Homo sapiens: one gene and its partners. The protein of the gene in region 7 purifies or fractionates together with the protein of the main gene of each other region. This does not show direct contact. Each region holds a gene or a part of one and is shown on either strand. Other genes may lie near its edges. The genes, in order: ATP6V1A, ATP8A1, WDR73, OCLN, STRN3, FKBP10 and SLC2A4.

Evidence for each region.
Region 1: the proteins of SLC2A4 (region 7) and ATP6V1A purify together in Homo sapiens (affinity purification with mass spectrometry; one large-scale study listed by BioGRID and IntAct). This does not show direct contact.
Region 2: the proteins of SLC2A4 (region 7) and ATP8A1 purify together in Homo sapiens (affinity purification with mass spectrometry; one large-scale study listed by BioGRID and IntAct). This does not show direct contact.
Region 3: the proteins of SLC2A4 (region 7) and WDR73 purify together in Homo sapiens (affinity purification with mass spectrometry, with the first as the bait; one large-scale study listed by BioGRID). This does not show direct contact.
Region 4: the proteins of SLC2A4 (region 7) and OCLN purify together in Homo sapiens (affinity purification with mass spectrometry; one large-scale study listed by BioGRID and IntAct). This does not show direct contact.
Region 5: the proteins of SLC2A4 (region 7) and STRN3 purify together in Homo sapiens (affinity purification with mass spectrometry, with the first as the bait; one study listed by BioGRID). This does not show direct contact.
Region 6: the proteins of SLC2A4 (region 7) and FKBP10 purify together in Homo sapiens (affinity purification with mass spectrometry, with the first as the bait; one study listed by BioGRID). This does not show direct contact.

What each region holds. Positions count from the first base shown.
Region 1 is NC_000003.12:113,806,035-113,809,295, forward strand, and holds part of ATP6V1A (V-type proton ATPase catalytic subunit A), read left to right. Parts: intron 1-3,261. UniProt on the Homo sapiens protein: Catalytic subunit of the V1 complex of vacuolar(H+)-ATPase (V-ATPase), a multisubunit enzyme composed of a peripheral complex (V1) that hydrolyzes ATP and a membrane integral complex (V0) that translocates protons.
Region 2 is NC_000004.12:42,458,106-42,461,605, reverse strand, and holds part of ATP8A1 (phospholipid-transporting ATPase IA), read left to right. Parts: intron 1-3,500. UniProt on the Homo sapiens protein: Catalytic component of a P4-ATPase flippase complex which catalyzes the hydrolysis of ATP coupled to the transport of aminophospholipids from the outer to the inner leaflet of various membranes and ensures the maintenance of asymmetric distribution of phospholipids.
Region 3 is NC_000015.10:84,641,535-84,644,283, forward strand, and holds part of WDR73 (integrator complex assembly factor WDR73), read right to left. Parts: intron 2,190-2,749; coding exon 1,936-2,189; 3' UTR 1-1,935. UniProt on the Homo sapiens protein: Component of a multiprotein complex required for the assembly of the RNA endonuclease module of the integrator complex. Associates with INTS9 and INTS11 in the cytoplasm, stabilizing the INTS9-INTS11 heterodimer and blocking the active site of INTS11.
Region 4 is NC_000005.10:69,548,290-69,551,789, forward strand, and holds part of OCLN (occludin), read left to right. Parts: intron 1-3,254; coding exon 3,255-3,296; intron 3,297-3,500. UniProt on the Homo sapiens protein: May play a role in the formation and regulation of the tight junction (TJ) paracellular permeability barrier.
Region 5 is NC_000014.9:30,907,880-30,911,379, reverse strand, and holds part of STRN3 (striatin-3), read left to right. Parts: intron 1-217; coding exon 218-339; intron 340-3,500. UniProt on the Homo sapiens protein: Calmodulin-binding scaffolding protein which is the center of the striatin-interacting phosphatase and kinase (STRIPAK) complexes.
Region 6 is NC_000017.11:41,816,004-41,819,503, reverse strand, and holds part of FKBP10 (peptidyl-prolyl cis-trans isomerase FKBP10 precursor), read right to left. Parts: intron 2,447-3,500; coding exon 2,301-2,446; intron 1,416-2,300; coding exon 1,226-1,415; intron 1,123-1,225; coding exon 977-1,122; intron 295-976; coding exon 105-294; intron 1-104. UniProt on the Homo sapiens protein: PPIases accelerate the folding of proteins during protein synthesis.
Region 7 is NC_000017.11:7,280,472-7,284,517, reverse strand, and holds the start of SLC2A4 (solute carrier family 2, facilitated glucose transporter member 4), read right to left. Parts: upstream 2,801-4,046; 5' UTR 2,584-2,800; coding exon 2,551-2,583; intron 1,274-2,550; coding exon 1,157-1,273; intron 1,046-1,156; coding exon 873-1,045; intron 781-872; coding exon 656-780; intron 545-655; coding exon 429-544; intron 302-428; coding exon 139-301; intron 34-138; coding exon 1-33. UniProt on the Homo sapiens protein: Insulin-regulated facilitative glucose transporter, which plays a key role in removal of glucose from circulation.

The DNA of each region.
Region 1 (3,261 bases), on a different chromosome or scaffold from region 7:
GGCTCAGGCAGGAGGATGACTTGAGCCCAGGAGTTCAAGACCAGCCTGGGCAACATGTCGAAATCCCGTCTCTACAAAAAATACAAAAGATTAGCCAGGTGTGGGGCACACACCTGTAGTCTCAGCTATCTGGGAGGCTGAGGTCAAGGCTGCTGCAGTGTGCCATGATCCCACCACTACTCTCCAGCCTGGGCAACACAGTGAGACCCAGTCTCAAAAAACAAAAAAAATTAGTATGTCACGTCTAAAATAAATGCTGATGTGTATTCCCTTTTGTCTTAGTTGCCAGGCAAATTAGAGCTTACTTCATAGCTGAGCAACAGTTGCCTTACTCCAAGTGCCTATTAACCTCTAGCACATGTGTTCTTCTGAAATGACATCTTCTCTGTTTACTTCTTTTAAATATCATGTACTGCAGGTCATTTTTTAACTTTTTTTTTTTTTGAGACAGTCTTGCTCTGTCATCCAGGGTGGAGTACAGTGGCACAATCTCGGCTCACTGCAACCTCCACCTCCTGGGTTCAAGCGATTCTCCTGCCTCAGCCTCCCAAGTAGCTGGGATTACAGGTGCCTGCCACCACGCCCAGCTAATTTTTTGTATTTTTAGTAGAGACGGGGTTTCACCATGTTGTCCAGGCTGGTCTTGAACTCCTGACCTCATGTGATCTACCCGCCTCGGCCTCCCGAAGTGCTGGGATTACAGGCGTGAGCCACCGCATCCAGCCATTTTTTAACTTTTAAGTGGCCTCTTGTTCTTTTGGAAGTACACAAGATAAAAATAGATAATTAAATGAAATTATTAGTAGGAACTCAAATGTATAAGATTGTTTTTAAAATATTTGATCAGTTGAATTGTATTTATTTCTGTCATGACATCCAGGCATATTTACTAACCACCTACTGAGAATGATTCTCTGAGTGTATATGTAATATAAAAATTTTTAAATTATATATATATTTTGTGTGTGTGTTCACACTATAGATTGAAAGTAAACCTGTACAAATAGGTAAGCACTACATTGAGAGTTTAAAAACATTTACACCTTTTTAGTCTTGTCATTTCACCTTGAGATAAATAAACAAAGGAAGTAATCAGAATTTTGATACGGATATACACGGTCGTTTATTAAATTCTTTTTCTTTTTTTTTCTTTTTTTTTTTTTGAGATGGAGTCTTGCTCTGTTGTCCAGGCTGGAGTACAGTGGCACGATCCTGGCCCACTGCAACCTCCCCCTCCCAGGTTCAAGCAGTTCTTCCTGCCTCAGCCTCCCAAGTAGCTGGGATTACAGGTGCATTCACCACACCCAGCTAATTTTTGTATTTTTAGTAGAGACGGGGGTTTCTCTATGTTGGCCAGGCTGGTCTTGAACTCCTGACCTCAGGTGATCTGCCTGCCTCAGCCTCCCAAAGCGCTGGGATTACAGACATGAGCCACTACGCTAAACCAAATTTCTTAAATGTCACCCAAGAATGAACAGAGCCAACAGTACATTATGGTGTGTCCATAAGATAGATATTATGAAGGCATTACCATTTTTGTCAAAAATATTCAAAGACATGGAGAAATGCTTATGGCACAGAGTGAAAAAACTTCCATATGTAACTTGATCCAAATATTGTCTTAAAAAACTATATATTCATAGAAAGAGGATGAAGAAGAAATATACCTGTAGTAATGATGATTTCTATTTACATGCTTATTGTGTCAAATTAACATCACAGGTATTTTTTAATGTCATTACTCTTCTGTAGCATTGTTTTGTGGCTGGAGAGTAATATTTTTCTATTCTTAGACACTTAGAAAATTTCCAGTTGTTGGCCGGGCGCATTGGCTCACGTCTGTAATCCCAGCACTTTGGCAGGCCGAGGCGGGTGGATCACCTGAGGTCAGTTCTAGACCAGCCTGACCAACATGGAGAAACCCCGTCTCTACTAAAAATACAGAATTAGCTGGGCGTGATGGTGCATGCCTGTAATCCCAGCTACTCAGGAGGCTGAGGCAGGAGAATCACTTAAGCCCGGGAGGTGGAGGTTGCGGTGAGCTGAGATCACACCATTGCACTCCAGCCTGGACAACAAGAGCAAAACTCTGTCTGAAAAAAAAAAAAAACAAAGAAAAGAAAAGAAAATTTCCAGTTATTGGTGTGGACAACCATGTAGTTGTGTGTAGTTGGTTTTGTGCATTTTCTTAGTATGGAGTCCCAGAAGTGGAATGATTGGGTTAGAGACCTGGAACATTTTAAAGTCTGTCTCTTTTTTTTTTTTTTTTTTTTTCTGAGACAGAGTGTCACTCTGTCACTAGGCTGGAGTGCAGTGACGCGATCTCAGCTCACTGCAACCTCCGCCTCCTGGGTTCAAGCGAGTCTCCTGCCTCAGCCTCCCAAGTAGCTGGGACTACAGGTGCACGCCACCATGCCCAGCTAATTTTTTTGTATTTTTAGTAGAGACAGGGTTTCACCATGTTGGCCAGGATGGTCTCAATCTCCCGACCTTGTGACTCGCCTGCCTCGGCCCCCCAAAGTGCTGGGATTACAGGCGTGAGCCACCAAGCCTAGCTAAATTATCTTTTATACATATTACTCAGTAAGTTGCCTAAATTTTACTTTTCCATCCCAGTGTGATAATACCAGATGTTGAGCAAATTCTGTTTTGATTAAATTAATTCCTAATTATCATGCATTAAGTCATGTTCATCTAATATATGAAGCGGCATAATTTCCCACTATTGTGCACATTGTTGAGGATAAAGGCTTTGGTCACTGAATGTGGTTATCAGGCAAAATGCAAAATTAAAATTTTGTTTTCTTTCTGTTTGGTTGGATTTGTATCCTTAAGAAAAAGGGAAAATGAGTATAGTTTTACCTCCTGCCTGTGGTTTACCAGTGTCCCTCACTAAACCTAGTACTCAAAATATATAAAATACGAGTAACCTGGGCCAGGTGCAGTGGCTCACGCCTGTAATCCCAGCACTTTGGGAGGCCGAGGCAAGTGGATCACTTGAGATCAGGAGTTCAAGACCAGCCTGGCCAACATGGTGAAACCTGTCTCTACTAAAAATATGAAAAAAAAAATTAGCTGGGCGTGATGGTGGGCGCCTGTAATCCCAACTACTTGGGAGGCTGAGGCAGGAGAATCACTTGAAGCCAGGAGGTGGAGGTTGCAGTGAGCCAAGATCGTGCCACTGCACTCCAGCCTGGGTGACAGAGCAAGACTCTGCCTCCAAAAAAAAAAAAGTAACTTAACATACGTAATGAAAATTAT
Region 2 (3,500 bases), on a different chromosome or scaffold from region 7:
TACAAAAGAAAGAGGTTTAATGGACTTACAGTTCCACATGGCTGGGGATGCCTCACAATCATGATGGAAGGCAAGGAGGAACAAGTCACGTCTTACATGGGTGGCAGCAGGCAAAGCAAGAGAACTTGTGCAGGGGAACTCCCCTTTTCAAAACCATCAAATCTCTTGAGACTTATTCACTATCACAAGAACAGCATTGGAAAGACTTGGCCCCATGACTCAATTACCTCCCACCAGTCCCTCCCACAACACATGGGAATTCAAGATGAGATTTGGCTGGGGACACAGCCAAACCATATCACTTGCCAACAGAAATACAATGCAAGCCACATTAGCAAAAAGCAAAAAAAAAAAAAAGAAAGAAAAAATTGATCTCAGTATATTTTATCTAGCTCAATGTATTCAAAAGATTATCATTGTCACCTGTAATCACTGTCAAAAATTATTAATGAGACATTTTACATCCTTCATCCTAAGTTTTCAAAATCTGGAGTATATTTTACATTTATACCACGTCTCAATTTGGACTAATCACATTTAAGTGTTCAAGAGCACGTGTGGCCAGTCTCTACCATGCTGGGCAGCACAGCAGTGGTAGATAAATAAGTGAACTGAATGGTTAATCAAGGCATGATAAATATGTTATTTGCCTTTTTTTAAAAAGTTGCCTTCTTATTGTCAGAAGCTATATGTGTAGTAATTCTAGGTGTTATCAGTTTCATGTCCCTGTTGGAGCTCTGCAGATCATGACAATGGCCTTCCCATTGTTAAGAAAACCTCATTCTCCCACTCCTGTCAAGGACCCACCATGGTCTCATAAATCTGCTGAGGGTTCCCTTACAGATAGATGTTTGTTTCTGCCACTTTACCATTTAATCTGTTGACTGTTTCTACACGTCTGTCAAAAAAGATACAGCCAGGCTGGGTGCGTTGGCTCACGCCTGTAATCCCAGCACTTTGGGAGGCTGAGGCGGGCAGATCACAAGGTCGGGAGTTCGAGACCAACCTGGCCAACATGGTGAAACCCCGTCCCTACTAAAAATACAAAAAATTAGCTGGGCATGGTGGCAGTTGCCTGTAATCCCAGCTACTTAGGAGGCTGAGGCAGGAGACTCATTTGAACCAGGGAGGCAGAGGTTGCAGTGAGCCAAGACTGTGCCACTGCACTCCAGCCTGGGCAACAAAGCAAGACTCCATCTCAGAAAAAAAAAAAAAAAAAAAAAAAAGATCCATCCATTTGCTATATGGAAATCATATTCTATCCTTTACTCTGAGAAGTAACAGTATAAACAAAGTCAGTACGTTGACACTTTCGTTGGGGGCTGGTGTATATTTGCTTCACCTGTTCTTTGTGCCTCTGTCAGAATGCTTATCTCCTTGTTAAATGTTGACTGAGCATAGTTCTTATTATGAGTCAGGCTAGTAAAATTGAAACTTAGTTTTGAAGTGTACAGGCAGTTTGGTGTAATGGTCACTAAAAAGGTTACAACCTATTAGATAAAATAACCTAATACAGGCCAGGCGCAGTGGCTCACGCCTGTAATCCTAGCACTTTGGGAGGCCGAGGGGGGTGGATCACGAGGACAGGAGATCGAGACCATCCTGGCTAACATGGTGAAACTCTGTCTCTACTAAAAATACAAAAAATTAGCCAGGCGTGGTGGCAGGCGCCTGTAGTCCCAGCTACTTGGGAGGCTGAGGCAGGAGAATGGCGTGAACCCGGGAGGTGGAGCTTGCAGTGAGCAGAGACCACGCGCCATTGCACTCCAGCCTGGGTGACAGAGCGAGACTCTGTCTCAAAAAAATAAATAAATAAAAATTAAAAAAATAACCTAATATGTGGAAATATAAACAAGATACGTAAATGAACTTACTCGTTCATTACTGCTAGATTTGGTCTGGAATAGTGTGTGTTTTGAAGCAAAATGCACTTCTAAAATAGTTTATAAGATTCAAAAAAATATTCTTTGTTGTTTATATAAATGTGTAGTTCTTTTCTAAAGTAATTATTTTTCTATTCTCAATCCCTTCTATATATCTAGCTTTTCTATTTATATGTTCTTCTCATTCCAGAACACTGACATTCAAGCAAATAACAATTTATACAGTTTATTTACATAGATTTATCAAGATACCAGGAATTTAAAGCCACTGCCAGCAATAAATCTGCTTATAAAAAGTTAATTTTATAAAATAAGAATGTCCAACTTGTCGCTTTTTAAATCTAAATTGACAGCAATAAAGTAGACAAAATTTATGTACTAATGAGAAAATAAAAACATTAAAATCAAATGAAAACAATCTTCATGCCCTGTCCTGTTTCAAACCCAGAATTATGTGATTTGTGGTTGATTAACCCTAAACTTCACTTGCCTTTGATTTTAAAACCTGTTCATGAGATATTTGACACTGATCAAATTCTTTACACAGTGAAAAGGAAGTGAGTTCTAAACTTTACTGGAAATCTCATTTTTATTTTTCTCAAGAGTTTGTGGAAATGTATTTTGAATATGATTCAACTGTCTTGGTAATGACCTTTTAAATCAATTCCCAGATACCCAACTTTTGCCAGCTAAAACAAGTTCTGCAGATGTTAATGGCTCATGTCAATACTGTGAATGAATAGACAGAAAACACATCATTGAATGTCTCTAGTGAGGACAACTGCCAGTCTCGAATCTCTCCTTTCAGTTTTTTGTGCTGATCAGGCGTGGGAGCAGAGGACTCATTGACTGTTTGTAAGCTGCTGTTTAATATGCAGAAATGCTCCATCAGGAAAATGAATGTGAAGCTTTAGCTGCCACGCCTCTACTGGGAGGTGGAATTTAGAAAATAATGCCAGGAGAAGCAGGTCTGAAATTTCTATGCTAATAAAGGAATAGTCTTGAACACTATGTGTTTTATAGATTTAAAACTACAAACACTGCTTTTCTCCTTGCTATATTGCTTAGGAAAGTCACTATCTAGATATTCCATTGCTGTAAATTACAGCCAGACGAATACAGATTTGGCAGATGGTGGTATAAAGCTCTTTCTTACAGGAGCTGCCCAGGAGCAGCTCTAGGTGTTCATTTAAATTATTGGCTCCTTTTAAAGAGAGATTTTTTTTTATTTCTCTGATATGTCTGACTCCTTCCTCATAAAATAAGACCTTTCCTTTCAAATGATTGGTCACATCCAAGTTTTCTGGGAAGATCTCAAAACCAAGTTGTGTTTCTAATTTCCAGAAGCTTTGATAAAAGTCAATAAGGTGATACTGTCCCAGCAAGTGGTGCTGGGAGTTGAATTCCCTGTGAATTTAAATAAACTAGACACCTCCCCAGAGGGACCGGTGTTTTCTTTCTGAATCTGTGGCTCTGGTTGAATTAGAGGAGGTACTTTTATGTGTTTGGGATAATTTAGATGTTGTTTTATTTTGCACGGGATATGTTCCCAATATTAACTACAATCTCAGCCTAACTTGAAATCGGCCTGCTGGTAGGCTACTTCACTGTTAAAGA
Region 3 (2,749 bases), on a different chromosome or scaffold from region 7:
ATGGAGTCTCACCCTGTCACCCAGGCTGGAATGCAGTGGCACAATCTCGGTTCACTGCAGCCTCTACCTCTCAGGTTCAAGCAATTCTCCTGCCTCACCCTCCTGAGTAGTGGGGATTACAGGTGTGCCACCACCATGCCCGTCTCTAATTTTTATATTTTTAGTAGAGACGGGGTTTCACCATGTTGGCCAGGCTGGTCTTGAACTCCTGACCTCAAGTGATCCACCCACCTTGGCCCCCCACAAAGTGCTGGGATTACAGGCGTGAGCCACTGTGCCTGGTCTATCTTTAAATTCCTATCTGAATTTGTTTAGGTTTTTTAAATAAAAATCTTTCTTTTTTTTTAGAGACAGGGGTTCACCATGGTGCCCAGGCTGATCTCGAACTCCTCCTGGACTCAAGCTATCCTCCCACCTCAGCCTCCCAAAGTACTGGGATTACAGACATGAGCCACATGCTTGACCTGAATTTTAACTGCAGTTAATTATCACTTAACCAGCGAATTCACACAGGAGAAATCCCCTGGCCGGGCGCGGTGGCTCACACCTGTAATCCCAGCTCTTCGGGAGGCCGAGGTGGGTAGATCACAAGGTCAAGAGATCAAGACCATTCTGGCCAACATGGTGAAACTCCGTCTGTACCAAAAATACAAAAATTACCTGGGCATGGTGGTACGTGCCTGTAATCCCAGCTACTTGGCAGGCTGAGGCAGGAGCATTGCTTGAACCCATGAGGTGGAGGTTGCAGTGAGCCGAGATCACGCCACTGCACTCAAGCCTGGGTGACAGAGCAAGACTCCATCTCTACTACAAAAAAAAAAAAAAAAAAAATTCAACCACCTTAGGAAGCCTCTCATTTATGTATTTCTAGCATGTAATTAGTGTTGCACATGGGAAGGGCTAATAGATGCTGACAGAGTGAACAACTTATCTATTTTGTGTGTGTGTGTGTAACAGGGTCTCATTCTGTTGCCCAGGCTGGAATACAGTGGCATGATCACAGCTCACTGCAAACTTCAACTGCCAGGCTCAGGCAACCCTCCCACCTCAGCCTCTTGAATAGCTGGGACTGCAGGCTCATACCACCACAACCAGCTAACTTGTATTTTTAGTAGAGACAAGGTTTCGCCATGTTGCTCAGGCTAGTCTCGAACTCCTGGACTCAAGTGATCCACCTGTCTTGGCTGCCTACATTGCTGGGATTACAGGCATGAGCCACCATGCCCAGCCAAATTTTTTTTTTTTTTTAAGGGAAGGGATCTTGCTATGTTGCCCAGGCTGGTCTCAAACTCCTCAGCTCAAGCAATCTGCCCACCTCAGCCTCTGAAAGTGCTGGGATTACAGGCATGAGCCACCATGTCCAGCACACTTTAATATTCACTATGGGCCCTCAAAAGGAAATGTTTGTGGGGCCACCAAAAGCAAATGTCTCTTGAACCTAGTCACCTGGGGGGACAAGTGTGGGAAAGTGCACCTGTGTTCCCATGAGACCCACTCAAGAGGAGCAGAAATCCTGTTTTGCTATTTCCTTAATTGCTACTAGGGCTGGGATTTTTTCATGTTTATTGGCCCCTCTACATTTTTTTCTTTAAAAAAATTCACAAAGCATGTTTATATTTGTTAGCTCTTTTGATTCTCCCTATGATAGTGTGAAGACAGGGACAAAACGCTACCATTTCACACTCCCAGATCTAACAATAGCTACCAAGTAATTATGCCATGCGTTTCTTCTAACCTTCGCAATATCACTACGAGGTAGTTCTTACTATCCTCATTTTACAGATAAGGAAACTGAGGCTAAGTGACGCTGGCAGACTTGCCCAAGGCCACACAGCTGGTAACAGGGACTGGTAGTCACTTGAGTCCTACATGAGCACCCTTGCTACTACAGCAGCTCCTCCCCTTTCTAGAGGCCTAGATGGAAAGATGCTGGTGTCAGCGGGGGGCACAAAGGTCCACCCAGTCCCACACATGCAGAGAGGCATCATTTGTTGCTGATAACAAAGTCCTTGGTCTGCAGGGATGCCAGGTGTGGGTGGTGACCAAAGGAGCAGGGTCCATCCCATTTCCATCTAGGAAGATGTGACCTCTGTGAGTGAAGAGAGGTTCTACTTGGCTCCGTGTTCCATCTTGGCTCCGTGTTCCATCCCAAGATGTGGCATCATAGACCTGGACTGTACCATCAAAACCTGAGAATACAGAAAAGAGAGGCTTGACAATGAGTCCCTAATTTTATTTTAAAATAATTTTCTTTCTATTTTTAATAGAGATGGGGTTTCACCATGTTGACCAGGATGGTCTTGAACTCCTAGCCTCAAGCGATCCTCCCATCTCAGCCTCCCAAAATGCTGGGATTACAGGCACCCAGCCCCTAAAATACTTTTTATAATTTGTTCTATGGTACCAAAACAGGCTATTGGATGAGGAATCAAGGCACTTAAAAGGCTAACCACGGGCAAGTAGCATCTGCCCTCAGTGTTGGCAGCTGATGACTCCGTGGGGCATGTAACCATGAGCATCCGTTGTGCACCTGTTATGCGTGAGGCTCGAAGGCTAATTCTGGACAAGTATTAGCTCTTTTAATCCTCAGAACTGTATGACACAGATACTGTTATTTTACCCAGGAAACTGAGGCTTAAGAGACTTCTTCAAACCTTTTCAAGTTGCCCCAGAGTCCAGTCCCCTACCTCTGGGTCCCTTTCAGCAGATGGCCTTGTCTCCTACTCGATGGGGGAAACAGAAGCCTTTG
Region 4 (3,500 bases), on a different chromosome or scaffold from region 7:
GTTAATAATTACAAAGCACTATTCTGTTTTTTTTTTTTTTTTGAGGTGGAGTCTCGTTCTGTTGCCCAGGCTGGAGTGCAGTGGCGTGATCTCAGCTCACTGCAAGCTCTGCCTCCCGGGTTCACGCCATTCTCCTGACTCAGCCTCCCAAGTAGCTGGGATTACAGGTGCCTGCCACCACGCCCGGCTAATTTTTTGTATTTTTTTTTTTTAGTAGAGACGGGGTTTCACCATGTTAGCCAGGATGGTCTCGATCTCCTGACCTCGTGATCTGCCCGTCTTAGCCTCCCAAAGTGCTGGGATTACAGGCGTGAGCCACCGCGCCCAGCCCCTACAAAGCACTATTCTATGTACATCTATCCTTTCCTATTTAAAATAAAATAGCCAGGCTGGGCATGGTGGCTCATGGCTATAATCCCCACACTTTGGGAGGCCAAGGCAAGTGGATCACCTGAGGTCAGGAGTTAGAGAATAGCGTGCCTAACATGGTGAAACCCCATCTCTACTAAAAATACAAAAAATAGCAGGGCATGGTGGCAGACACCTGTAATCCCAGCTACTCGGGGAGGCTGAGACAGGAGAATTGCTTGAACCTGGGATGGGGGAGGTTGCAGTGAGCCAAGATTGCGCCATTGCACTCCAGCCTGGGCGACAGAGTGAGACTCCATCTCAAAAATTAATAATAATAATAATAAAATAGCCTTATTATCTTTCCTATTTATAAAGCCATTCATTCTTTCTGTAGAAAAGAACTTAAGCGGCCGGGCACGGTGGCTAATGCCTGTAATCCCAGCACTTTGGGAGGCCGAGGTGGGCGGATCATGAGGTCAGGAGATCGAGACCATCCTGGCTAACACAGTGAAACCCCGTCTCTACTAAAAAAAAAAAAAAAATACAAAAAATTAGCCAGGTATGGTGGCGGGTACTTGTAGTCTCAGCTACTTGGGAGGCTGAGGCAGGAGAATGGTGTGAACCCAGGAGGCGGAGCTTGCAGTGAGCCAAGATCGCGCCACTGCACTCCAGCCTGAGTGACAGAGTGAGACTCCATCTCAAAAAAAAAAAAAAAAAAAAAAAGAACTTAAGTAACACAGAACTGTATACAGAAAAAGAAATCATCTTAAATCCTACCATCAAGAAATCCTTATCACCAAAATATTAGTTAAAACAATCTCTCCAAGCAGGAGTCACCAAGGCACATACACCTTTCTTTAAGGAAACATCATCTTCCATGTTTCACTTATTTTCTTCCTGTCTTTTAAATCAACAGTTTATGGGTTTTTTTTTTCCCTCCCTTGATCACCTGGCTGAGATAGAATTTGTCCATGTAAAGTTACTGGATTTTTTTTTCAATCCATCCTTTTCATACTGTATTTTGTATACATACTGAAATTAATGTAGTTACACCACCTTTTAGAGGGAGATTAATCTCTTCTTGTTTATTTGTTCCTTTATTGATCAGTCAATCACTTACGTAAGTATGGACTTTACAGATACCTGTTTTATACTGTGAATTATAATCCAAGGCTGCTTTATTTTGTAGCTCTAATTGTTCTCGCTTTGACGGTTGGGAACTTTCAGTTGCTTCCCGTGTCCCTTTGACATACTCTTATTGTGGGGTTTTATCTTTAAAAAAAAAACAAACAAAAAAACTTCCTTGCACTGCTTATTTCTGGCTTTTCTTAACAGCAAGTTTTTTTTTTTATATCAATAATAAAGACCTACTTACTTTTAAGTTTTTTATGTGTAAAATTAGGTAAACAACTTTCAAATTTATGGTTGTATCATAATTTAAGAGTCATTTTCTATGGATAGACATTTAAGTATGTCTCCCCCTACTCCAGTAGTACCAGTATATACTGGTGAACCTCTCTGTTTTTGCACTCTTGTCTACTTATCTAATTTTTTTTTTTTTTTTTTTTTGAGACGGAGTCTTGCTCTGTCGCCCAGGCTGGAGTGCAGTGGCGCTATCTTGGCTCACTGCAACCTTCGCCTCCTAGGTTCAAGTGATTCTCCCGCCTCAGCCTCCCGAGTAGCTGGGATTACAGGCATGTGGCACCACACCTGACTAATTTTTGTATTTTTAGTAGAGACGGGGTTTTGCCATGTTGGTCAGGCTAGCCTCGAACTCCTGACCTCAGGTGATCTGCCTGCCTTGGCCTCCCAAAGTGCTGGAATTACGTGTGTGAGCCACAGTGCCCAGCCTGCTTATCTAACTAAAACTAATTCCAGAATGTGAAATTGCTGAGAGTCAGAGGGTACGTACCTTTGCAAAGTTGCAAAATTGCCCTCCAGAGAGACTGCACCAACTGTGTCTCCCTCTTGATACAATACAGGACTCATTTGATGCACATCTCATTAAATATTCTGCCATTTTTCAGTTGAGGTGATCTACTTTTTAGTTTTGACGTATTCACATCTTTATATAGTTAGATTTATGTATTTCTTTTATGGTTTCTATAGGGTGTTATAGATCTTTCTTAATTTAGTGAACATTTATTGATCACTTATTTTTCTTTGATGATGTGGAAATGCTGGAGCTAGAGACATAAAATCTTGTCCCCACCCTAAAAGAGCTTATATTTTAAGAAAAAAAACCTGACATCTAAACAATTTAGACAGTATGATTAATGCTGTATTTGCATCATGTGTAGAAAGCACTATAACTAACTGCTCATAGAAGAAATAAAGTCTTTGGAGGCTTCACAGTGAGGGAATCGTTAAGAGCTTTCCAGACAGAAGGGTGCGGGGAGGTGCATGATTACAGCCATAAGGAAAACATGATTGAAATCCTGAAGCATTTAACATGTCTCAGTTTTTAAAGGAGTTGCTGATGATGGGTACTGAGACTGGAAAGGTAGGAAACTGGATGAGGGGAGAAGTTAATGGGAAGCTCAGACCAGTTGTGTAGTGGGATATTACCTGATCAGCGAGCGCTCTGTGTTATAAAAGATCTTCCTGGTGTCAATGTAGCATGGGGACTGGCATGAGGAGAGATGAGAAGTAGCAGAACAGATAGTTACCTGCCTATGTGAGTGAAATGTGAAAGATACAGTATCATAAATGTCTCTTCACTGAATTCCTTCAGACCTTCCTGCTGATCATGAGTTTTAAGAGCTTTACGACTTCATTCTTTTAATTGCTTATATTTTTGTCATAAGCTGTCATTTTTAGCTCCAAAGTATAACATCAGGAATGTTACTTTTAAAAGAGAAAATGCCCCAGTAAACATATTCCTTTGTGTCTGTCGTTAATAGGCTGCTGCTGATGAATACAATAGACTGAAGCAAGTGAAGGGAGTAAGTATCCGAGATTGTTCTTTTAGGAAGAACTTTCTTTCTTCTTCTTTTTATTTTAATTCCCATACCTACTCATCTGGAGGAAGAGCTTTTCTATTACATGTTTTTCATTTTTTATTTTATATATTTTTTAAAAGTTGAAGTATACATACAGAAAAGTGTATAAATCAAAGTGTATAACATGGTGAATTTTCACAATGTGAC
Region 5 (3,500 bases), on a different chromosome or scaffold from region 7:
TACTGAGCAGAGATCACCACTGCATTCCAGTCTGGGCTGGTGACAGAGTGAGACCCTGTCTCCAAAAAAAAAAAAAAAAAAAAAGTACCAGTCAGGTGTACATGTTCTCTTAAAACAGTTTTTAGATATTACATAAATTCAGAGGTTGGGGGAATGGAGATTTGAGTTTCTTCTTAGAATTTATCAGTAATTTGTTTTTCCTCTCTTCCTACAATAGCGGCCCTGTTCTGTCATTAGCTATTAGTTCTAATGGAGAACAGTGTTTTAGTGGTGGTATTGATGCAACCATCCAGTGGTGGAATATGCCGAGTCCCAGTGTAGATCCATATGATACATATGGTAAGTAAAATGATCAAAATGTATTTTTTTTAAGTGAATGGAGCTGACAAAAGTAAATACCTCAAATATGATTACAAGGTTATTTAAACCTATATTAGTCACCTCATTTAGTTCTTCCATTTGCTAATAAATTGCTTTATTAAAGAGAAAAATTAGGAAATGTCATGCCATGGGTATTTAAGCCTATGAATTGATACTTTCTCTGTTGTTTAAAAAACTATATTAATTAAAATGTTAATTTAGGTAGTAGTTACAAAAAGAAGGAGGAAACAAAATGTAATCTAAGTAACAAAATTTTGAACTTAAGAAATAGTTTATATATTTTAAAAATATTAAGCAAAAGACAATGGAACCAACATCAGGGGTATAAATCATTAAAACTTTTTGGAGCCAAAAATTTTTTTTGTTATTCTTAGCTCATATCTACAAAAACATTCTTAATTTCAAAATGGAAGAAAAAAAAAAAGAAAGGAAACCTCCTTTGACTTGCAAATGTAGCTTTTAGAAATCTGTTCTACAGAAACACCTACCTGTACCTGTGTTCAAATATATTTGTAAGGGCACTGTTAATAATTATAAAACGTTAAAACAAAATGTTTATGAACTCTTTGTTCTTTTTATTTAACACACACATTGTGCCTACATTAGCTAGGCATTGTGGTAAGCACTATGTCAAGAAATAAGATTTAGACTAATGGAAAGTAGAGACATAAAACAGATAAGCGAAGGGATGGGATCTATGGTTACAAATTGTGATAAATGATAAGAAGATAGAGTACTGTTGAGAGGGCGTAACAGGCAGAACCTTCTCTAGAAGAGTTAGTCAAGAAAGGTCTTTCTAAAATAGTGACATTCAAGCCAAAATCTGAAGGATAAGAGGAAACTTTCAGTAAAGAGTTTTAAGCCAGAAAGTTATCTGATAAATGTAAGGTTTTAAAAAGGTGACTGTGTCTGTTGTGAGAAGAATAAATTGGGGGCGAGAAGAGTGGAAAGAGAAATACCAGTTAGGAGGCTGCTGTCATAAAGTAGTCCAGTAAACTAGGTGACAAACGACATTGCCAAGATTAGAGTGGTGGTAGCACAGCATTTAGAAGTGGTTTTAAGATACGCTGAGGGAGTGTGGTAGAATAGACAGGATTTATTGATAAATTATGTTGAGTAGATAAAGTGATGGGTGAGTGACTCTTAATTTGTATGTGTTTAACTGCTTTACTGAGATAATTTACATATCACAAAATTCACCCTTTTAAAGTATACAGTTCAGGCTGGACACAATGGTCCATGCCTGTAATCCCACCACTTTGGGAGGCCGAAGTGGGTGGATCACTTGAGGCCAGGAGTTCAAGACCAGCCTGGGCAACACAGTGAGACCTCATGTCTGCCAAAAATTTAAAGATTTGCCAGATGGGGTGTCACATGCCTATAGTCCCAGACACTCGGGAGGCTGAGCTGGGAGGATCACTTGAGTGTGAGAAGTAAAGGCTGTAGTGAGCTATGATGGTGCCAGTGTACTCCAGCCTGGGAAGAGAGTGAGACCCAATCTCTCTCTCTCTCTCTCTTTCTTTTTTGGAAACAGTCTTGCTCTGTCTCCTAGGCTGGAGGGCAGTGGCGTGATCTTGGCTTACTGCAACCTCCGCCTCCCAGGCTGAGGAGCTGGGACCACAGGTGTGAGCCACCACACCGCACTAATTTTTGTATTTTTTGTAGAAATGGTGGCCATGTTGCCCGGGGTGGTCTTAAACTCCTGGGCTCAAGTGATCTGCCTGCCTCAGCCTCCCAAAGTATTGGGATCACAGGCATGAGCCACTATGTGCAGCCACAAGACCCCATCTCTAAAAAAAAATTAAAGTCTACAGTTCAGTAGTTTTTACTATGTTCACAAAGTTGTACAGCCATCATCACTAATTTCAGAACATTCACAAAGTTTTACAGCCATCATCACTAATTTCAGAACATTTCAAACATTCAGAACATTCAGTCCTGTTTGATGTGAGTAACTGAGCATGTGATGGGAGCATTTATTGAAACGAGGACAGAACAGGTGTGAGGAGATTTAAGATGGTGAGTTCAGATTTTAGGCATGTTAAAGGATGACAAATATCAAGTAGGTAATATACAAATAAGGAGCCCAAAGAGATCTCGATTGAAGTTAAAAACATGGACAGTCTTCTCTATACAAATAATACATTAAACTATAAGAATGGGCAATACTGGGGGAGTGTATTGTTTGGTGTAAGAAGAGAAGACAACCTGGGACTAAAGTCCTCAGTAACTCTGACACTGGAAGAGTGGCTAGAGCAAGAGAGCCAAGAAAGGAAACTGAGGAGGTGTGACCCAAGAGACAGAAGGAAGTGCAGGAGAGGGTGCGAAATCATGGAAGCGCACACTAAAGAAGAAACAATTTTGAGAAGAAAGAAGCAGTCTGCACTTTCGAATGTTGCTGAGAGGTCCAATAATATGATATAAAGTTTCCTTTTTATAAGTGACTAGCAGGTCACCCAGGTCTTGGCCAGACAGAGTTTGGACGCTGCAGCTAAGACTGAAGAATGAAGGGACCTCTGGATAATCTTTCATGTCAGACTATATGGATGAAAAGCAATATAATGGGAACAACAACAAAATGTTTTGTATCATCAAAGAAAAGTATTAAATTTGATAGTGTAGGGATCATCATTAGCAAGGATTGTTTTGGTGTGGTAGTGGTATCAGAAACCAAATTGGAGTGATTTGAAGAGTAAACAGGAAGTGAAAAGCATATTTCTATTGCTGGGTGGAAGGGGTGGTAGGATAGGATTAATGAAGATTTTTTGTTGAAGAGATTCTGGAACAAGTTTTTTTTCACTATGGTAATGATTCCAAGGAGGAGAATTTGTGTAGTAGAGAAGCAGTAAACATTACAGCAAGTTAGTGACATCTGGTATTAGCCTTTGATAGGATGGAGGACAGATTCCTTGCTTGTATCTGGAAGCTAGGAGAAGATACCTTTAGACACTAATCATTTATATATTACGCAGCAAGAAGATGGGGGATAAGAAACATGCAGCATTATTTGAATGCTATATTTTCTCAGTGAAATATGAGGCATAGTCATTCATGAGGAAGAGAGGTTGGGAGCTGTGAGAATTGTGGAGATGATAAGAACCATTCATGGAAAGTGGGAG
Region 6 (3,500 bases), about 35 Mb from region 7:
AAGGGAGTCAAAGGGGCCCTCCCCTTCCAGGCAGCTCAGAGTGACCCCCAGCTTCGTCCACGTTTCACCCAGCCCCCGCCCTCCCACCTCAAGACCCTCCTGACCTGGAATCGAAGAGGGTGCCGTCCATCAAGGAGCCATTGTAGTGGTAGCGCATGAAGTCCCCGGCCCCGGCTCTGCGGACACAGCCGGGGGGGAGCTCCAGCGTCTCTAGCTGGACAGCGTCCTTCGGGTTGTGCACGTCAATCAGGAGGACGTGAAAGACCAGCGAGGCCTGTGGGGGGATCACTGTCCCTGGGGAAGGGATAGGGCTTGAACCATAAAATTGGGGAGCAAGCCGAGGCTCCTTCTTGACTCAGGAAGGCCCAGTGGGCACCATGCAAGACACTAGCCCCACTCTCCAGAGCCCTTTCCCGCCCATCAGCAGCCCTGCTTCTTGCTCCTCCAGTAAGACCTGAGCTGGGTTTTCCCCAGGGCCACCACCGGCTCATACTGAGCCTTCGTGTGAATCAGAATAAAGCACCCCTTCTTTTTTTTTTTTTTTTTTTGAGACAGAGTCTCGCTCTGTCACCCAGGCTGGAGTGCAGTGGCGCGATCTCGGCTCACTGCAAGCTCCGCCTCCCGGGTTCACGTCATTTTCCTGCCTCAGCCTCTCCGAGTAGCTGGGACTACAGGCGCCCCCACCACGCCCGGCTAATTTTTTTGTATTTTTAGTAGAGACGGGGTTTCACCGTGGTCTCGATCTCCTGACCTCGTGATCCTCCCGCCTTGGCTTCCCAAAGTGCTGGGATTACAAGCGTGAGCCACCACGCCCGGCCAAAGCACCCCTTCTTAGTAGCACCAAGGGTAGATTTCATCCCACCTTGAGTCCTTGGTTGGATGCCCTCGTGCAGTATACAACCTGAGCAACTGTATGTGGAGGCCTGGTTTTTCCCTCTTCTGCGGAATTTCCCCTTGTGTCCTTGCCCACCCTCACCATAGCCTTTCTCGCCATAGGCCAGGAATGGAGGGATGATAATCTTCCTTCTCTCTCCAGGACACATGCCCAGCAGCCCCTGGTCCATGCCCTTGATCAGCCAACCAGAGCCGACGTAGGTGTCATAAGTGCCGCCCTTACTGTAGCTGCAGAAAATGAGGTGGAGGTGGGAGAGGCAGGCTGGGCCCCGGATTCCCGCTCCCCATGCCACAGTCCCCAGTGCCTCAGGGCTCCCCTCCAGCCCCTCACCTGGTGTCGAAGGAGGTGCCGTCCAGCAGGGTGCCATTGTAGTGGTAGCGGACAAAGTCGCCGTCCTGGACCATGCGGGGGCAGTGGGGCGGGCGCAGCAATGTGCTCACCTGCACGGTGTCTTCCTTGTTCCACACATCCAGCAGAACCACATCGAAGTAGAGGGTGGCATCCGGTGGAATGAGCCCCGCTGTGAGAGCGCAGCAGCGTGGAGGTCTCAGAGTTCTGCTCTGCCAACCACGATCCCAGCCAGGGCCCTGTTATTCCCCTTCCTCTCATCCCAGCACCAAGAGACCCAAACCAGGGACAGAGATGCCACTATTTTTGTTTTTTTTTTTTAAGAGATAGGGGGCCAGACACAGTGGCTCATGCCTGTTATCCCAGCACTGTGGGAGGCCAAGGCAGGTGGATGGCTTGAGCCCAGGAGTTCAAGACCAGCCTGCGCAACATGGCGAAACCCCATCTCTACTAAAAATACAAAAAATTAGCCACGTGTGGTGGTGTGCACCTGTAGTCCCAGCTATTTGGGAGGCTGAGAGGGAGGACTGCTTGAGCCCAGGAGGCTGAGGTTGCAGTGAGCCGAGATCGCACCACTAAACTCCAGCCTGTGCAACAGAGTGAGATGCTGTCTCAAAAAAAAAAAGAAAAAGAAAAAAAGAGGGGTTTTGCTCTGTCACACAGGGTGGAATTCAGTGGCATGATCATGGCTCACTGCAGCCTCCCGGGGTCAAGCAATCCTCCCACCTGAGCCTTCTGAGTAGTTGGGACTACAGGCACACACCACCACACCTGGATAATTTATTTTATTTTTTGTAGAGACGAGGTCTCACTATGTTGCCTAGGCTGGTCTGGAACTCCTGGGTTCAAGCAATCCTCCCACCTCGGCCTCCCAAAACTCTGGGACCATATATGTCAGCTACTGCCCCAGCCAGAGCTGCCACTCTTCATACTGCGTGCACAGTGTGACATTGGGCAAGTCACTCCTCATCTCCGCACTTCAGTTTTCTCACCCCAGGATCCCTGATTCTGCCTCGTGGTCTCCTCCACCCCCGGCCTGTGCCCCAGCCCTTCTCACCCAGGCCGATGCTCCCATAGCCCAGGTGGGGAGGCACAATGAGGCGTCGCCGCTCGTTGACACACATGCCCATGAGGCCTCGGTCCATGCCAGTGATGAGGCGCCCCACACCCACCACGATGGCCACCAAGGTGTTGCGATCATAGCTGGGGGGGGAGGGACAGATGGGATACAGTGACCTCAGACACACACACACTGCCCATGGTGGCACAGATGCACAGGTGTGCCTGCACACACGCACACAATCCCCCCTCCCTATAGCCAGGTGTGGATACGCACACACACTTCTCACCTCCTTTTCAAGTCCCCCTCCTAGGTCGGCCGTGACGCCCACCTTAAGAGAACGGACTGTTGTGAAAGGCAAGTCCCTGAGGAGGACAAGGGCTGCTATTGCCCTGGGACGGGGTTGGGTGGGATGCCCGGGCCTGATGGCTGCTACTATTTGCTGACAGCAAGTGGGGAGTGGTACGTACAGCACGGAGGGGCAGAGGAGCATTACTATATGGGATTAAATGCTTGGCATTTTACATTCCGTATCTTCTTTGTCTCCCCTGTGAGGTGGGCATTCTTGTTCTCATTTTTCTTAATGAGAGCAATGGAGACTTGAGAGACTCAGTGCCTTGCCCAAGGTCACACAGCTAATATGTAGTCAGCTGAGTTCTAAAATTTGCCATTATACTATTGGCTCTCCAAGAAAAGACGGGAGAGCAGAGGTGGGGTGGGAGCTGGTTTCACATTTTGAAAAGGCCTATTCTACAATCCTGGCTAACACAGTGAAACCCCGTCTTTACTAAAAATACAAAACATTAGCCAGGTGTGGTGGCGGGCGCCTGTAGTCCCAGTTACTCAGGAGGCTGAGGCAGGAGAATGGCGTGAACCCGGGAGGCGGAGGTTGCAATGAGCCGAAATCGTGCCACTGGACTCCAGCCTGGCGACAGAGTGAGACTCCCTCTCAAAAAAAAAAAAAAAAAAAAAAGCCTATTCTAAAAGTGCCATGGCTTTTGTTTGTTTTTAGTTATACACTTTTAATTAATGTATTTATTTTTACTTATACATATGTATTTTTGGAGATGGAGTCTCGGCTCTGTCACCCAGGCTGGAGTGCAGTGGTGCAATCAGCTCACTGCAACCTCCACCTCCCGGGTTTAAGCGATTCTCCTGCCTCAGCCTCCGAAGTAGCAGCTGGGATCACAGGCATGC
Region 7 (4,046 bases):
AAACATCGGCCCAGCCTGTCAGGCGCTTCAGACCTGGAGAAGGGAAGGTCAGGCCTGAGGGGACCTGAGAGGAAGCCAGGTGCTAGCAAGATGAGGCGGAGGCATGGGCCTGGGCCAGGCTGCAGCGGGAGAGCTTACTCTTTCTGGCAGGCCCCTCGAGATTCTGGATGATGTAGAGGTAGCGGGGGCTCTCGGGACAGAAGGGCAGCAGGACCAGCTGCAGGAGGGCAGGTAGCACTGTGAGGCCCAGGAGCAGTGGCCACAGGCTGGCAGTGCCCAGGAGGGACTCCAAGCCCAGCACCTGTGGGAGAAGGTTGGGAAAGAAGGCAGGTCACTCAGCCCTTCTGCCTTACCTTGGAAGCCCACCATATTCTCCAGAGCCCCACTCTAACCACTGCCCAGGCACCCATGAGGCTTGCTCCGGTCACCTGGGCGATCAGAATGCCGATAACAATGGCCAGTTGGTTGAGCGTCCCCAGGGCGCCCCGCAGGTGAGTGGGAGCAATCTCCCCCACGTACATGGGCACCAGCCCTGATGTCAGCCCTGGGCGAGGGAAGAAGAGAGGGCTGAGGGCAGGTGTCCATTCCCATCTGAAAGCCCAGGCATGGTGAAAGAGAACAGGGCGCTAGGCAGGGCTGTGGTGCCCGTGAGTACCTGAGTAGGCGCCAATGAGGAATCGTCCAAGGATGAGCATTTCATAGGAGGCAGCAGCATTGGCCAGGCCCATGAGGCTGCCCCCCAGCACCGCCAGGACATTGTTGACCAGCATGGCCCTTTTCCTGGCAGGCAGACAGAGTGAGGCTGTGAGGGTGAGGGCACCCAGCAGTGGCTCCCTTCCTGTTTCCCCCACCCCTGCCCTCCAGCTGCGAACCTTCCAAGCCACTGAGAGATGATACCAATGAGGAAGGAGGAAATCATGCCGCCCACGGAAAAGATGGCCACGGAGAGGGCCCAGAGGGTGGTGAGGGTGCCTGGAGGGATGGAGCTGGGTCCCTCAGGCCCCTGCCTCCCCAGCCACGTCTCATTGTAGCTCTGTTCAATCACCTGGGGGACAGCAGAGGACAGATTTCCTGCAGACCGTCCCCTTTCCACCACCCCCGAGACACCTGTCCTCCTCGTTTGGGTACCCCCACCCTGCCAGCTGCAGGCCCTCACCTTCTGAGGGGCATTGATGACCCCAATGTTGTACCCAAACTGCAGGGAGCCAAGCACCGCAGAGAACACAGCAAGGACCAGGGTCCCAGTCACTCGCTGCTGAGGGGGTTCCCCATCCTGAACAGGCAGACACAAAGACACAGCATGTCACATGGAACCATGATTTTTTTCCTTCCGCTAGGGGCCCGGGCCCAGCTGGAGCCTGAAGATACTGGGCTCCACCCAACATGTTGGGTGAGGGAAACTGGGCCATATTAGGAATTGCACAAAGATCTCAATGTAAACAGGAGCTGAACTGCAACCTGGGCATAAAGGAGAAACTGGATGTTTGGGTCCATAAGGCAGAGAAATGTTTGAGAACTTGTCTCAAAATTCTTCTGTGACCTTGAGACAGGCTTGGCCTTAAGAGCTCAGATTTGTGTGACCTTGGCCAAGTCACTTCCCTGCCCCGAACCTGAGTGTCCTCTGTGAGATGGGGGTGATGTTGCCTGCCTTGCCTACCTATCTGTGAGAGTGTTGTGAAAATCAACATCACATGTTAACAATATCCTTGACAGTGCTGGTTTCATAAATTAACACGTGCATTATTATCATCAGCCACTGTCCTCTTCCCTCCCCTCTGGGGGTTCTGTCAGCCAGCTCCAGGAGGCCCCCAACAGGACCAAGAAGTGCTGTTCCAGAAAGGACATCCCGGTCATCTAGGGGTGGCCTTCTCTATCTACGTCGTGGCCTGCCCTCCCCCTCTAACCTCCGTGCAGGGAGGGCCGTCCAGGGGTTCTGCCTGGGAGAGCCATGCCCAGGGGAGGAGGGCAGGAAGGTAGTGTGAGGGGCGGTGGCAGTGGTGGCCGCTCGCTGGCGGCACAGACTGTCTCCAAGCGGAAACCTGAGCTGGAGGAGGGGGGGCTGACAGTCCCCTCTGCCCCTCCACCAACCATGGGGCCAAGGGAAAGTTCAGCGTCCTGGAGGGCGGCCAGGAGTGGGGGTGGGGGCCCACGGAGAGCCTCCGGTCCTCGAAACACTGCCCGTGAGCGAAGACGGACGGACAGCTCCCGGAGGGCAAGACCCGCCTGGATCTGCTTTCCCGAGTCGGATCGAGGGCAGGGTGTCCCCGATTCCGGAGCGCCGCGCCGCCTACTAGGCAAGGGGGTGAACCCTGGCTCGCAGAATCCACTTGCTGCCTGTGCCCCGAAAGGCCCTCCAGACCCACTCTGCCTTTTGGTAGGATTGGAATCTCACAGTCACGGGTTGTCCAGGCCGGGTATAAATAGCCAGCCCCCTACCTTCACCCCCTGCGCCTGCGCAGGAACCACCCCCAGCTGACCCCAACCGCGACCCCAGCCCAAGAAAAGCGGGACCCGTGCCCCCCCGCCCCGCCCCCTCATGATGAATCCTACTTCGGAGCCTATCTGTTGGAAGCCCGACGGCATCTCGTCTTAGAAGAGCTGGACGCGCAGGGGCGGCGAAGATGAAAGAACCGATCCTGGAGTCTCTGACTCCGGCCTGGAGCGCAGAACCTGCGGAGGCCGCGGGGGTCCCGGAGTGACGTGCGAGGGCGGGCCCGATGGGACCCACAGCCACAAGCCAAGGACCCGGAGAGCAGTGGGGCTCCCGCGGATCTGGTGGAGCGGGGCTGGGGGAAAAGACGCGAGAAGCCCCCGCCACCTCGCTCCTGCCCCCGCGGGCCACGCCCTTCACAGCACCCATTGGCCAGGAGCCCGCACACCCCAGAAGGCCACGCCCCCTCCGCCTGGGGTTTAGAGTTTGGCTGGAGTTGGTGGGGCGGGCCAATGAGGCCACGCCCCTCCGCGTGGCTGGCGAGACACGCCTCTCGGGTTCCCGCCAGCCTCCGACTGGGAAGTTTTGAGAAAAGAGTCCCTGGAACAAAAGGCCCCGCCCACCCACGTGTTAGGACTCCGCCCACCAGCTAGGATCCCGGGCTGCAGAAGCATCTTAAACTCTGCGGGTCTGGACAGTGGGGTCTGAGAGGAGAGGACGGGCCAGGTGTACTTGCCCCGGGGAAACTCCAGCGGCCTGAGACGGCTCGCGAGCCGGCGCGCGGGTTGGGAGAGGAGCAATGCCCCAAAGTAACCCGGGGCTGCTATTTTTAGCTCCCACGTTGGGAGCCTCCAAATGTCAGGTCCCGGGCGTCCCGGCCTGTCCCAGGCGGGGGCGGAGAGACAGGGAGATGACGCCTTAAAGAGTCCGCGACATGCTTCCCACGCGAGTGTGGCCCTGGGGGCCAGGAAATTCCGTTCCCACAACGGGTCTGGTGGCCGGGCTGCTTGGTCCTGTCTTTCAGCGCCTCCCTGCTCCGGGCACTGTCTATCCCGCCCTTCCCCTACACACATTCCCCAGGTTGGTTCCTGGAGCCGGTCCGAGGGACAAGTGGTCACAACCGACCACACCACCAGCCCTGAGGTCTCTGAGCCTCTGAGGTCTCTGAGCATATGCTGGCCGCGTGAACGACACGCTCTCTGGAGGCTGCTCCGGGTTTGGATCCTCGGCCAAATTCTGCCAGGCAGAAAGTGCGCGACCTAGGGTCGGCGTGTGGGGAGAGAGAAGCCGAAATACCCAGAGCGTGGAGAGTGTCTGGCTCAGAAAACGGGCTTCGGAAGCGCAGGGTTGTGCTGCCACCTGGAGGGCGAGCGAGGAGCCGCAGTGGATTGCACTTGGAATCTCAACCCACTATTTCTCGCCTTTCCGCCACCATAGGGCTTCAGTGACATCTGACCCAGGCCCTTCTCTGGAGCTGCAGATCCAGGTGTTCGTTACCGCCCGGATGTGGCAGCTCTAGTGATCAGCATGTCCAAACCTGCTCCTCCTCCTAACTTCCTTATTTCAATGAATTACCCGCCCAGTCACCCCTATGGTAGAAGTCAGGCTCGATTCC